4 linked regions of the Homo sapiens genome follow. The protein of the gene in region 1 purifies or fractionates together with the protein of each later gene. This does not show direct contact. Each region holds a gene or a part of one and is shown in the gene's direction. Other genes may lie near its edges.

Region 1 (4,232 bases):
TCTTCTCTGGAGAAGGATCAGATGAACTTACGCAGGGTTACATATATTTTCACAAGGTAACCACTCTGAAGTGGAGGGATATTCATGCTATATTAAGAAAAGTATGAATTGTTTGACTATTTTCTATCATCTTTCAGTATGACAGTGATATTTTTGAGTATCTTGTGAGGTTACAAAAGGGAATCTGATAGTGTTTGCTTTCTATCTCTTGGGGAAGAAAGAAATTTTAATGTGTCAGATAATTTTTATTCTTTAAAACTAGTTACAGCTGGGTATGAGGGCTCATGCTCATACCCCCAGCTGCTGAGGAGGCTGAGGTGGGAGGATCACCTGAACCCAGGAGATTGAGGCTGCAGTGAGCTGTGATTGCACCACTGCACTCCTGCCTGGTTGACAGAGTAAGACCCCGTCTCTTAAAAAAAAAAAAAAAAAAGTTAAAAATAAATAAATAAAACTACTTAAGCTTGAGAATCCCCTTTCTGCCATTTCTTAGCATCCTGTGGAATTATGACTGTTGCCCATTGTGTTCATTTTATTCTAATATTAGCAGTTTGGTAGGAAGGAAGGCATGTTTTGTGAAGCATTGCTTACCTCTGTTCAGTTATTTACTCCCTTCCCTAAATTTGTTTAACTTTTTGTCTTATCCACCTTTAGGATTGGAGAGGGAGAAAGAAAAACTGCTTTGTGTGCCAAAAGCAAAACTCTTGGTGTTTTTGTTTGTGAAATAGGCTCCTTCTCCTGAAAAAGCCGAGGAGGAGAGTGAGAGGCTTCTGAGGGAACTCTATTTGTTTGATGTTCTCCGCGCAGATCGAACTACTGCTGCCCATGGGTAATATTTTTAGAGGCTATTGTAAAACAAAAACAAAAAAACACCAAAAACAAAACAAAACAAAAAGCTCAATACCCTGAGAAAATAAAAATCAATAGCTGATTGGCTATATGTTACATATAGTTGGCTATATGTTACAAAGTGTGACTTTTATAGAGAAAATGAAGCTGTTTCTTAACTTTGTCCCAAAAGGATTAGGCCACATTTCAAAGTGGTGTTGTGGTATATGGAGAGAAGTCTTCTTCCATAGGTTGTTTGAGGTGGAGTTTTCACCTTTAAAGGGTAACAACATTCTGCTCACATCTGAACAACCAAGATGGAAGAGGCAAGGCTGCTACAGCAGCTACCGTTAAGTGTTTTAAAGAGAAGTAAAGATCGTAAACATCATGTGACAAGTAGTGAGTGCCCACCATGCCCATGTGGTGCTGTAGTGACCCTGAGGGAATAGAGTAGTGAAGATACAAGGGGTTTGATTACATTATAAAGAACCAGGTTTCTTTGGTTATCATTTCTAGTTGTCTAAAGTTATGTTGAAGAACTGAAGACTTTTACTGTACAGGATAAACAACTGACATTAAATGTCTTAGTTGCCTCTGCTGAATCACACCTAGATAAGGATATAATTAAATATGGGTTTGAGGAATGAACTGAATCTGGTCATTATCCTCTCTGCTTGTCCTAACTAGAGTCACTAGGCTTCAGGAAACCGGTGATTTGGAATTTGATGAAATATAGTGGGACACTGGTTTATATCGCATATTGTATGTGAATTTTTAATCAGTGGCAAAAAAATACTGTATCGTCATCACAATTGTTAGAAGAGATGGTCTCACCTAGTAAACACTGAGTTAGGTCTAGGCAAGGTATTTTCTTAATGATTGGGTCACTCATGTTTTGTAACTTTTTCTGCTTTTTGAAATATGCATTTAACTATTCCTAGAAGGGAAAGTAAAAGTAATAGTCTCAGTTAGTTTTACTCCCTAGATGACATGATATATGTATTATTTTAAATGAAGATTTATTTTTTGTATCTATTCATTAGTGTAGGGCAGTCATTAGGAGGCTTGTATGTGACTGTATGACCTTAACATTTCTTAAGATCTGGTTGAATTGATGGGAAACTGAATCAGAACCTAACCTGGCAGGCACTAAATACCCATTTTAATTTAGATTTTCTTCTTTTCTCCTTTAAGTCTTGAACTGAGAGTCCCATTTCTAGATCATCGATTTTCTTCCTATTACTTGTCTCTGCCACCAGAAATGAGAATTCCAAAGGTAGGTAAATCAACTCAAGGTAAAACTGTCCATTGCCATCAGATTATATTTGTAATTTTTACCTGATGCTCCTTTTTTTGTCACGTCAGAATGGGATAGAAAAACATCTCCTGAGAGAGACGTTTGAGGATTCCAATCTGATACCCAAAGAGATTCTCTGGCGACCAAAAGAAGCCTTCAGTGATGGAATAACTTCAGTTAAGAATTCCTGGTTTAAGATTTTACAGGAATACGTTGAACATCAGGTATAATGTCTTTAAAAACATTTTCAGGAATAAGACAGTTTGGATGCAGAGCTGTCATTGCTGTTCATTTTGTATTTAGTTTGAATGATACATGTATTTAGTTTGAATGATACATGTATTTAGTTTGAATGATACATACATCAGATATCTCTCTGATAGGATGTCCCTATCAGAGAGATTCAGAGTCTCTGTAAACAATTATCTCTTTTGTAAGAATTACGTAAGAATTAAGTAGCATGAAGGATTATAAAGTAGCATCTAGAATCGAGAGAGAGAGGAGACTTACTACTAATCATCACTGATTTTCATTTATCAGATTTTTGGGCACCTGCTGGGTGCCAGATCTTGTTAGGCACAAATGACTAAAACAGAGCCACCAAGTATTAAAAATATGCATATGAGTGTTCTTTAAAAGGCACTGCAGCTATCCATATTATGAATACTTTAGCATTTTCTAAGTGATGGGTGATTCAAAGGGTCTCATACAAGTTACAGTCACGTCTTAACATTTTCTGTTTCGTGAAATGAGACTAAACACAAGTATTTCCTGCCATTTTAAGCCATTTTGCTCTTATATGCTTATTCTTACAGGTTGATGATGCAATGATGGCAAATGCAGCCCAGAAATTTCCCTTCAATACTCCTAAAACCAAAGAAGGATATTACTACCGTCAAGTCTTTGAACGCCATTACCCAGGCCGGGCTGACTGGCTGAGCCATTACTGGATGCCCAAGTGGATCAATGCCACTGACCCTTCTGCCCGCACGCTGACCCACTACAAGTCAGCTGTCAAAGCTTAGGTGGTCTTTATGCTGTAATGTGAAAGCAAATATTTCTTCGTGTTGGATGGGGACTGTGGGTAGATAGGGGAACAATGAGAGTCAACTCAGGCTAACTTGGGTGTGAAAAAAATAAAAGTCCTAAATCTAAACCATTGCTGTAGTCATTTATGTTCATGCAGTCTCTTCATAAGAGGTAACTAGAACTGTTTTGCTGTATCACAGTAAAGTGGAGGGTAAGCTAGGAAAAGGGAAAATGATCAGATGTCTGCAAGAACTCACAGCCCTCTCCTGGCAGAGCTGCTTTAGATGACATTTGCATCTTGTGCCCGTGTGGCTTCCTTCCAGTCCTTGCCTCATCTTAGGGACGTCATCAAAGGACTACACTATTTTTGTTCTGCCTACATTCCTAACAGCTGCCTAGGCAGACTCAGACTTGAATCTTCTATAGGAGTTCATCACAGCTCTATTTTGCAAGATAGTAGTTCATTTTTTTCTCTTTTATGTTGAGCCAAAGCCACTTCTGGAGACTTGTCCTAGAGCAGGGGTCAGGCTTTTTTTGAATTTTTAATTTGTTTTTAATAAAGAGCCAGATAGTAAATATTTTAGGCTTTGTGGACCTCTTTTGGAACTGTTCAGCTCTGCCATTATAGTGCAAAAGCAGTTACATAGGCAATATGTAAACAAACGAGCGTGGCCATGTTCTATTAAAAGTTACTTATGAAAGCAGATGGTGGGCCAGATACGGCCTGTGGGCCATAGTTAGTTGATTGCTGTTCTAGAGGAACAACTAAGCTAACTAAGCATTTCTGATGAAAGTCTAAACCTTTGTCAGATGAGTAGATTGCAAAAATTCTCTCCCATTCTGTAGGTTGCCTGTTCACTCTGATGGTAGTTTCTTTTGCTGTGCAGAAGCTCTTGAGTTTAATTAGATCCCATTTGTCAATTTTGGCTTTTGTTGCCATTGCTTTTGGTGTTTTAGACATGAAGTCCTTGCCCATGCCTATGTCCTGAATGGTAATGCCTAGGTTTTCTTCTAGGGTTTTTATGGTTTTAGGTCTAACATTTAAGTCTTTAATCCATCTTGAATTAATTTTTGTATA
Region 2 (3,072 bases), on another chromosome or scaffold:
GGGTCAGTCTCAGCCCCTGCTCAGAGCTCAGTCCTGGGTTCTGTCTGCCCAGCTCCACCCCGTCAGTGTCACTGGACAGGGCAGCCATGCAGACCCTGCAGCTGGGCTGATAGGCCCGCCTGGGCCGCCTCATACAGACGTTCAGGGCATTGGAGGCCCCTTGCCGGTCCCTGAGCAGCCTGGGGCAGGGCTGCCGTGCTCACTCCAGGCCCTCAGACCTCAGCCCACCCACCCTTTGTGTGCAGGCTGTCCTGGGCCCACCTGGAGGTCAGGGGAGAGATGCCCCGAGGACATGTCTGACAGCAGAAAGCCTTGGCACACATGCCCAGTGACCACTGAGAGCCCCACGTCGCGGAAACCTGACGGCTGGTCACCCTTGACCCTGGCTGAACGGGTCCAAGGACTCTTGGTTTCTTTCTCCCCACCAGGGCCCAGACTGGTTCCTGCCGCGTGTAGGCTCGTGGCAGAGGACTTCCATGTGTGGCCAGAGAGCGCTCCTCCCTGGGGCAGCTGAGCGTGTGCCCCACCGTCCTGGGAGGGGTGAGGTATGAGCGCTGACCCCTGCCTGCCCCCGTCCCACAGGGTAATCCTGGGAATGGTGACGCTTGGGAACATGCTCTCGTCCCTGCTTGCCGGGAAGGTGCAGCCGTCAGACCAAGTTGGCAAAGTCATCTACAAGCAGTTCAAACAGGTACCCAGTCACCTACAGGCAGCTCAAACAGATGCGCAGTCACCTACAGGCAGCTCAAACAGGTGCCCGGTCACCTACACGCAGCTCAAACAGGTGCGCGGTCACCTACAGGCAGCTCAAACAGGTGAGCGGTCACCTACAGGCAGCTCAAACAGGTACCCGGTCACCTACAGGCAGCTCAAACAGGTGCGCGGTCAGCTACAGGCAGCTCAAGCGGGTGCGCGGTCACCTACAGGCAGCTCAAACGGGTGCCCAGTCACCTACAGGCAGCTCAAACGGGTGCCCGGTCACCTACAGGCAGCTCAAACGGGTGCCCGGTCACCTACAGGCAGCTCAAACGGGTGCGCGGTCACCTACAGGCAGCTCAAACGGGTGCCCAGTCACCTACAGGCAGCTCAAACAGGTGCGCGGTCACCTACAGGCAGCTCAAACAGGTGCCCGGTCAGCTACAGGCAGCTCAAACAGGTGCGCGGTCACCTACACGCAGTTCAAACAGGTGCGCAGTCACCTACACGCGGCTCAAACAGGTACTCAGGCACTTCGGGACCCCAGAGGGTGCCAGAGTACTCCAGCCTCGAAGGCGGGACACCGCGCTTCCCGTGTGGGGGTGCTGGGTCCTCGACCCTCAACACCACTTAGGCCGAAGCTGGCTGCACCCCTCAAACCATGAAGCTGAGAAGCACCCACTTTACAAGTGCAGCAGCCGGAGAGCAGGCTCTCATCAGTGCAGGCTCATCCACACCAGCCGTGTTTTGGGGACTTAAGGAGGTCATTCGCGCTCAGAGGCTGTCCCGGGCACCATGCGGCGTCTGCCGGGGTCTTTCTCCTGCCCAGCCTCATTTGCCTGTGCATGCACTTGGTTATCCAACAAGAGCTAGAACATTCTGGGAGAAGCCCACGGTGGCTCCTTGCCGGGCTGGTCAGACTCCGTGGTTGTCCTGAGACACCCACCCTCTGCTGCCCTGAGGGTGGCCCAGGAAAGTTTGTGTGACCTTCCACACGGATCCCCTGGGACATGCAGGTGTGGCTCTTGACACTGGAAAGGCTGAGGGTTCTGCCCAAACCTAGGAGTGAATTCGACTTCTTTCCCATCTCACACACACACCCGAGACGTCACCCGAATCCACGTATTTCCCACGTTCGGCTGCCACTGCCTCCCGGGTGGGCTTTGCAGGACCCACCATCGCATCCCCTCTCACTCCACAGAAAACTCGTGGGGCCATGTTCCCCCTGCCACTGACCACGCTTCCCTTGCAGATCCGCCTCACGGACACGCTGGGCAGGCTCTCGCACATCCTGGAGATGGACCACTTCGCCCTGGTGGTGCACGAGCAGATCCAGTGTGAGTGGGGCCCTGCTCTGTGCGTGGGGTTCTCACTGGGGTCAGGCCACCAAGCCTGGCCTCTGCCATGGGCAGCAGCTGGGCCCCCCATCCCCTGCGGGGTGTTAGGGGAGTGGGTGGTGCCGACCTTCAGTGACACCCAGTCTTTATGCCTGGGCCTCCCACATGCCCTGGGCTGGTGGGCTGTACCTGTGATTCCTGCAGGGACCCCTCATCAGGCCACACTGGGTAGGGCCCTTTGTCCAGCATGCAGAGGCTCAGGAGTCCAGGCCCCTTGCCTCCGGGGAGGCCAGCAGTCTTGGGGATTCTCAGGGACAAGCCCAGAAACATCTAGAAGGGTTTCAAGTCCTGACCCTGGCATTCGGAGGGCTGCTCTGAATGGAAGCCTCATGTGGGTCTCACAGGAGCCACTGATGGGCTGTCCTCAGAGCCCCGCTCCCAGCAAGCTCATGAGGTTTTGCAACTCCTGAGCGCATCCCCGGGCGTCCCCACCACATCCCCACAGGCCAGGAGAGTCGCTCGCAGGTTTTGGGTCATAGATGGCAGCCCTGGGCCTGGGGCCCACAGGAAGAGTTGGGAGGGGCCCTGGAGCCTGGAGCCTGCCCACCCACCAGGCCTGTGTGCAGGGGGTGAGCGCTCGGTGGCTGAGGCTGGTCCGTGAGGGCCCCAAGTCTAACCCCATCTCCCGTCCTTGGCTCTGCAGCGCAGGACCAGGCCTGGGCAGGCGTGGTGGGGGGGCCTGCAGGTAGGTATCACCCACCCCTCAGAATGGCTCTCAGGCTCAGATTCACAGCCTCCCCATGGCAAATGGAGGCCTTCCAGGGTCCTGGACCCACCCCCAAGCTTGGGTAGGAGGGATCCCCCTCTTAATCTCACATTTACTTGTGTTTGAACATCTCAGAAAAAAAAAAAGATGCAAATTCCAATGTCAGGGTCCCCAAATCAAGTCTTCCTGGAGCATGTCCACGCTTGTCACCACCGTCTGTGGCTGCTTTCAAGCACGTCAGGGCTGCGTGCTCATAACAGAGACGGCACGGCC
Region 3 (3,500 bases), on another chromosome or scaffold:
ATAAAATGGATTAGTAAGTGTAAAATATATAGAATAATGCCTGGCATGTAGTACATGTCCATTAGACTTCAGCGGTTATTGTCAGTAATGCAGATGGAGAGGTGGATAGAATCAGTAGCTATTTAGATCAAGTTGACTGGATTTGATGATAGCTTACATATGTAAGGTTGGAAGGTAAGTGCATCAAGAGTGATCGCAAAATGTATGTAAATGTGTGTAAATAGTACAGTGGGGCACAAGTTGACCAGTGATAGGAAAAGCTTCTTGAAGGAAGTAGTAGCTGAATTGGACCTTTTAGGACTGGAACATGCAAAAGAGGATTATATAGCCCTGGTGAAAAGAGTGACCCAATGTTCTTCAGTTCTGAAGACTGCTGGGAGGAGGAAGAGTTCTTTCTCACCTGAGGCTACTTTACCAGAAGTTCTCTCAGTCTAAATCACAAATCCTAGTGATTGTGTATCATCCTTTCCTCCACTTCCTGCCAAGCTCAGCAACTCAAAATATGCTGTTGGTCCTGAGAAAGGAAACTGGGCTAATCCCTTCCTTCTGAGGCTGCTGAATAGGAGCTTGGCTTTCATCAGAAAGATGCTTTCACTCCCAATTATTACAAGATCATCTTGCAAATTCCCATTTTCTAGAAGGCTGATTGCTTGTTCAGAATGCTCATGGCAAACACTGTTGGTTACCCACTCAGCAGTCATGACCTCTTTTTCCTTATTAACACCTGAATTTGATCAGTCCATGGTAGACTCAGCCTGTGGATACATCATGGTGTAAGCCAGTCATGGTAATCCTATCTCCATTTATCAGATACTTATTCTTCCAGCTTCCTGGTAGCTGAGGGTGACTAGTGATAATATTCTGACATACAGGAAGTTTGCTCAGAAGCTTCTAGGATGTGGGAAGAGAAGCCCTGCCTTTTTTGGATACTCTCATATGAAGAAAAGATACTTGGAACTGCTGCTGCCACCATGTGAGACTGTGAGGAAAAGGTTAAGGGGATTTCAGAGACACCATCCCATTTTCTAACATCACTGAGCAGTTGAACTACCCCTACCTGGAACTGTCTACTATCAGACTTCTAGACTTCCTTTTTTTTTTTTTTTTTTTTTTTTTTGAGATGGAGTTTCACTCTTGTTGCCTAGGCTGGGGTGCAGTGGCGCGATCTTAGCTCACTGCAACATCCGCCTCCTGGGTTCAAGCGATTCTCCTGCCTCAGCCTCCCGAGGAGGTGGGATTACGGGCACTCACCACCATGGCCAGCTAATTTTTTGTATTTTTAGTAGAGATGGGGTTTCGCCATGTTGGGCAGGCTGGTCTTGAACTCCTGACCTCAGGTGATCCACCCACCTTGGCCTCCCAAAGTGTTGGGATTACAGGCGTGAGCCACGGTAGCCAGCCCAGACTTCTTTTGTGAGATATGAAATGTCTTTATTGTCTAAATCTCTGTTAGTTGGGTACTGTTCATTGCAGCCCAATGCACCCTCATTACTACACTGCTTTTCAATGAACAATATTTTACACTTTACAAGAATAACTACCTTCTCCTTCTTCTCCTTACTGGCCTTTCCAGGCACCCATATCAATAGTCAAGCCCAGCCAATTTTCCTCTGGGATTTCTGTGTGCATATTCACTTCCATTGCCCCCATCTACCCTTTAGTGTCTCTGAGCTAAAATATAACAGGAGACCCTTAACTGTTTTCTCTCATTCTAGTATTTCCCCCACATTACTGAAAACTCTTTTCTTGGACCATGGGTAGTATCATGTATCTACTCTTCTATAACCATCTATGGCTCACTATTGCCTCTAAGTTTCAAATGTCCTGGAAGATGTTCTAGGCATGACATTATTTGGCCCCAACCTGTTCTCTAATTCTTTCTGTTGCTTCATTTATCTGTCTGGCAAGTGGGAATAGGATTACCATGACTGATTTACACCATATTGTATCCATGAGCCAAGGGATGTCTATCCATGCAAATTTCTCCCTGTTTTCCAGCACATCATGTCCTTTTATGCCTCCACATTGTTGGCACCAATTTCTTTGCCTGGAATAGTCCTCCTTTTTATATCCCCATTTCCATTTTACTTCTATCAAAATGAAATCTTGCTCTTCCTTTAAGGCCCAGCTCTGATCTTCTCTTTTTCACAAAGGCTTTCACAAAGGCTTTATTCCCAAGTTGAAATAAATTGCCCCTTCCTCTGTTCTTCCATAAAATTTTTCATATATTTCAAATCAGTATTTTACAGGTAGTTAAGAACATGGTTTCTAGAGTCAGATTATGTGAATTCAAATCAAAACTCTGCTACTTACTAGGACAAATTTTCTGACATAGCTGAACCTCAGCATCCTCATTTAAAAATGTGGATTAAGGCTGGGTACAGTGGCCCGCACCTGTAATCCTAGCACTTTGGGAGGCCGAGGTGGGCTCATCACGAGGTCAGGAGATCGAGACCATCCTGGCTAACATGGTGAAACTCCATCTCTACTAAAAATACAAAAAATTAGCTGGGTGTGGTGGCAGGCGCCTATAGTCCCAGCTACTCGGGAGGCTGAGGCAGGAGAATCCCTTGAACCCGGGAGGCAGAGCTTGCAGTGAGCTGAGATCATGCCACTGCACTCCAGCCTGGGCAACAAGAGCGAAACTCCGTCTCCAAAAAAAAAAAAAATGTGGATTAATAGCACCTTGATAGAGTTGTGAGGCAAGTGAGATAGTGTGTTGTTATTATTTTTCTTTCTCTGAAGTAGTTATTCCAATTTGCCTTTGATTATACTTAGCTTTATAGAATGTTCTCACTCACTGAAATGATTTAAAGTTTTTGGAAAAAGAGAGATGAACTGGAGAAAAGGTAACACTTACTAAGTCATACTGTATTTCAGACAGTCTGCCAAATCCCTTACAAATCAACAACCTTGAGACAAGGTAAGGACACCATCATCATCATCATCATCATCATCATCATCATCTCTACTTTACAAATGAGGAAACGGAGGCTCGGAGAGTTACTTGGCTGCAGTCACAGCAAATAAGTGGCAAAGGCAAGACTCAGAGCCATGCCTGTCTGATGTCCAAGGTCCGTGCTCTCCAGGAGTCTCTGCTGTCTTCTGTCATGGAGAGGGCCAAAACTCTATTGTCCTAAGGCCCCTTCAACATTTCATGTTGTTTTAGCACAAAGTAGGTGGTCAGTAAAGTGTGTTGAATGTGATGTGTAATACAAAAACGAGGCAGGCAGATCACAAGCTCAGGAGTTCAAGACCAGCCTGGCCAACATGGTGAAACCCCGTCTCTACTAAAAATACAAAAATTAGCCAGGCATGATGGCAGGTGCCTGTAATCCCAGCTACTCAGGAGGCTGAGGGGGAAGAACTGCTTGAAACCAGGAGGTGGAGGTTGCAGTGAGCCGAAATTGTGCCACTGCACTCCAGCCTGGGTGACAGAGTGAGACTCCGTCTCAAAAAAAGAAAAAGAGAAAAAAAAATGAGTGATAGAACAAACCTTT
Region 4 (3,500 bases), on another chromosome or scaffold:
AACTCAGAAGTGTGCAGTTTTGTAATTGAGCATCCGTGTTGCGAGCATAAATAAGAGTTGTTTATGTTGCAGACACCCAGGGTGTGGCCCCAGACATCTGAAACAATCATCCTGGTGGCGTTCACTCTAACACAGGGTTTCTCAGCACTGTTGACATTGTGGGTCATATAGTTCTTTTTGTGGGAGGCTGTCCTGTGCATTGTAGGATATTATCAGCAGCATCCTTGGCCTCTACTCAGGAGATGCTAGTAGCACCGCTCCAGTGTGACAACCAGAAATGTCTCCCTGGGGAACAAAACCATCCCTGATTGAGAACCATTGTTCTAACCTAACAAAACGTGATTTCCCCAGGCAAAACCAAACTATCGAGTTAGAAATCAGAAGAGAGGCTGCCTAGGGGCAAAGGAGGGAAATAAGCAGGAAAGGTACATGAGGGAAATATATCTTGATTGCAGGGGGTGGTTACACGGGCATATGCATTCATCAAAACTCTTCTGAAGGTACACTTGTGATTTGTGATTATGGCTCAGTTTTTTAAAAATAATCATTTATAAAAGGTAATATTTACCCCTAAAAGATAGGGATTTGCTTGTTACAGAGCCATATTCCCAATAACCATTACGACTTGGAATAGTATTTCTTGCCCTCATGTTTGCCATCTGCAGGGTAGGACTGAAGTAGCATAAAACTGAGTCAGCATGAAGAGGAGGGCTGCTATTCGTTTATCTGTCTTTCCTTCCTGGATGGATCTCGTAGGACATCATAAAACTGCAGAAGCTTAGAGAAGCATGAGAGTTTCTTGTCAGATACTGCTCTTTTGTTCATGTTGATGGCAAGACAAAGTCTCCATCAGGTCTTGCAACCCAGAGGTGTGCTGTTTCATAACTGAGCATCCTCACTGGGAACACAGATAAGAGTTGTTTATGACTCAAAATTATGATGCTGGCCCTCTCACTTCCTCATGGGGTCTCCTCAGTTTCACAGTAGCACTAAGTACTTTACATGTGCTAACTTCATGTAATCCTTACAACAACTCCATGGGATGGATGCTATCATTATCCTAATTTTGTAAATGATGAAACTGAGACTTAGAGAGGTTAAGCAACTTTCTTAGAGTCACCTAGCTAAATGGTAGAACTGGGATTCAAATCCAGGCAGCAGGTACTGGAATCCAAGCAACCTAACCACCTTGCTACATTGTCTCTCCAAGATCAGTACGTTTCGCTTCCTGGCTTTGCAAGTGTTATTCATTGTGTTTGGAATCTACCTTTTTCTCCTTGCCGTGACCCACTTTACCTTATGAATCTGTTTGTCTGGATCGTAATCCATCCTTCCAGATCCACTTTAAGTATTGCCCCTCTATCCCAGAAACATTGGTTTTTGAGGGAGAAGTATTGTTAATTTCCATGAACAATTGTTAATTGCTTGCTAGGTAGTAGATACTGTTCTAGGTGCTAGGAAAAGATACACAGATAAGCTCCTGATCTTCAAGAAGGTCTTGATCTGCACTGTCACTAAGCCCATGTGACCATGTCAGTATGGTAACCACTTGCCACATGTGACTATATAAATTTAATTATAATTTTTAAATACAATTTCATTTTTTCAGGGGCACTCTCTACACCCAAGTGCTCCATAGACACATGTGGCTATTAGCTAGCATTTTGGACTGCACAGATACAGAACACTTCCATTACTGTAGAAAGTTCTATTGAACAATGCAGGCCTACTTCAAAGATTGGTAAACAAGGGCCCATGAGTCAAGTCTGCCCTGCCGCCTGCTCTGGTAAATAAGTTTTTGTTGTTTGTTTGTTTTTGTTTGTTTGTTTTGAGATGGAGTTTTGCTCTTGTTGCCCAGACTGGAGTGCAGTGGCACGATCTCGGCTCACTGCAACCTCCGCCTCCCAGGTTTAAGCAATTCTCCTGTCTCAGCCTCCTGAATAGCTGGGATTACAGGTGCCCACCACTACGCCTGGCTAATGTTTTTGGTATTTTTAGTAGAGATGGGGTTTCACCATGTTGGCCAGGCTGGTCTCCAACTCCTGACCTCAGGTGATCTGCCCACCTCGGCCTCCCAAAGTGCTGGGATTACAGGCGTGAGCCACCGCACCCAGCCGGTAAAAGTTAATTTACTGTCTATGGCTGTTTGGAGGCTGTAAGAACAGAGTGGAGTAGTTCAACCGAGATAGGCTGGCCTACCAGGCCAAAATTATTTACTATCTGTCCCTTTACAGAAAGTTTACCAGTCTCTGGCCCAGATCAAACAGGAAGTGGGATGCATTGGAGAACTGCAGCCAATCCTGTGTTTTAAGAAACTAAGAAACAAGTTTGAAGGTTAAGCCCGGGAGGTGATTAACAGCTAGGCCACGGAAGTCCTGGTGTGCTTGCATTTCTCAGAGAGTACTCTAAAAGAATACCAGTCCAGGCCAGGTGTAGTGGCTCACATCTGTAATCCTAGCACTTTGGGAGACCAAAGCGAGCAGATTGCTTGAGCCCAAAAGTTCGAGACCAGACTGGGCAACATGGACTTAGTTCCTGCAGAACTAAGACTACTTGAAACCTACTTTGAGACACTTTGCCTTAAGGAGCCATTGAATACTTTTAAGCTAAGGAGAGACATACTCAAATGTGCTTTATAAGTTGAGGTCCTTGATTCTTTGTTGGCGTGTCTTTCAATAGCACTTGTCTTACCTAGTGATACAGTATTTAATAGTTGTGAGCTTGTCTAAACCAAGGTCAACTACTATTCTCTTTGAGGACAGGCATTATGTTACTCACATTTATATCTTAAGCTTTTGCTGCCTCTAGACCCTTAGTAAATTCTCAATATGTTTGTGGGATGGGAATAAGCCAATTGGCAATATAGCCATTTGCACTGTTGCAAACTCATTAGTCATCTTCCTTATTTAGCTCCTTGGCAGAAGCTAATATCTCCAAACTGGAGGAGCAAATAAGATGTAGAGCAGAAATGTGAGGGTGGGGAAATATTTTAAGCTGTCAAAAGGCCTAGAGGTCCACAGATAAGAGCCTCCACCTGCATACCTACAGCCTGCCTGTGGGGATGCTGTCATCGGCAATGACTCACTTGCTGGACCAGTATCAGGCCAAATTAATGTGCCATTAGTCTTAAGAGTCAACAGAAAGGCCCCCACACCCTTATCCCACCTTCCAGACACTGAGACATCAGCCCGCCTCCTGCATGGGTACAGGTGAATTGAGGAGCCTTCCAATCCAAAGCCACCGGGTTTCTTGCTTCTGTCTCTTTCTTCTTTAGAGAGAAGACAGTAGGTTTGTCTTTGGAAAGACAGAGGTATGACATACTTGATTTGTACATATGTGATTTCCTTTAGATTCGGTGCTCTCCTGGGGACCTTACCTGTACAGCATGGTAAGTAGATACACATCTGCACCCTCTGGGCAAACAGCCCAGCAGATCTCTTCTGGCTGTGACCCCAGGAAAAGAGATGCTGGATGAGTTTGCCTATGTGGTTGACACTGCT

The links.
Region 2: the proteins of ASNS (region 1) and CBS fractionate together in Homo sapiens (co-fractionation; one large-scale study listed by BioGRID). This does not show direct contact.
Region 3: the proteins of ASNS (region 1) and GDA fractionate together in Homo sapiens (co-fractionation; one large-scale study listed by BioGRID). This does not show direct contact.
Region 4: the proteins of ASNS (region 1) and SCPEP1 fractionate together in Homo sapiens (co-fractionation; one large-scale study listed by BioGRID). This does not show direct contact.

The regions. Positions count from the first base shown.
Region 1 is NC_000007.14:97,851,177-97,855,408, reverse strand, and holds the end of ASNS (asparagine synthetase [glutamine-hydrolyzing]), read left to right. Parts: coding exon 1-56; intron 57-654; exon of another isoform or gene 655-728; coding exon 729-829; intron 830-2,022; coding exon 2,023-2,104; intron 2,105-2,193; coding exon 2,194-2,349; intron 2,350-2,940; coding exon 2,941-3,150; 3' UTR 3,151-3,732; downstream 3,733-4,232.
Region 2 is NC_000021.9:43,055,764-43,058,835, reverse strand, and holds part of CBS (cystathionine beta-synthase), read left to right. Parts: coding exon 1-2; intron 3-428; exon of another isoform or gene 429-545; intron 546-582; coding exon 583-691; intron 692-1,948; coding exon 1,949-2,033; intron 2,034-2,736; coding exon of another isoform or gene 2,737-2,778; intron 2,779-3,072. UniProt on the Homo sapiens protein: Hydro-lyase catalyzing the first step of the transsulfuration pathway, where the hydroxyl group of L-serine is displaced by L-homocysteine in a beta-replacement reaction to form L-cystathionine, the precursor of L-cysteine.
Region 3 is NC_000009.12:72,155,940-72,159,439, forward strand, and holds part of GDA (guanine deaminase), read left to right. Parts: intron 1-2,880; exon of another isoform or gene 2,881-3,074; intron 3,075-3,500. UniProt on the Homo sapiens protein: Catalyzes the hydrolytic deamination of guanine, producing xanthine and ammonia.
Region 4 is NC_000017.11:56,991,631-56,995,130, forward strand, and holds part of SCPEP1 (retinoid-inducible serine carboxypeptidase precursor), read left to right. Parts: intron 1-3,350; coding exon 3,351-3,388; intron 3,389-3,500. UniProt on the Homo sapiens protein: May be involved in vascular wall and kidney homeostasis.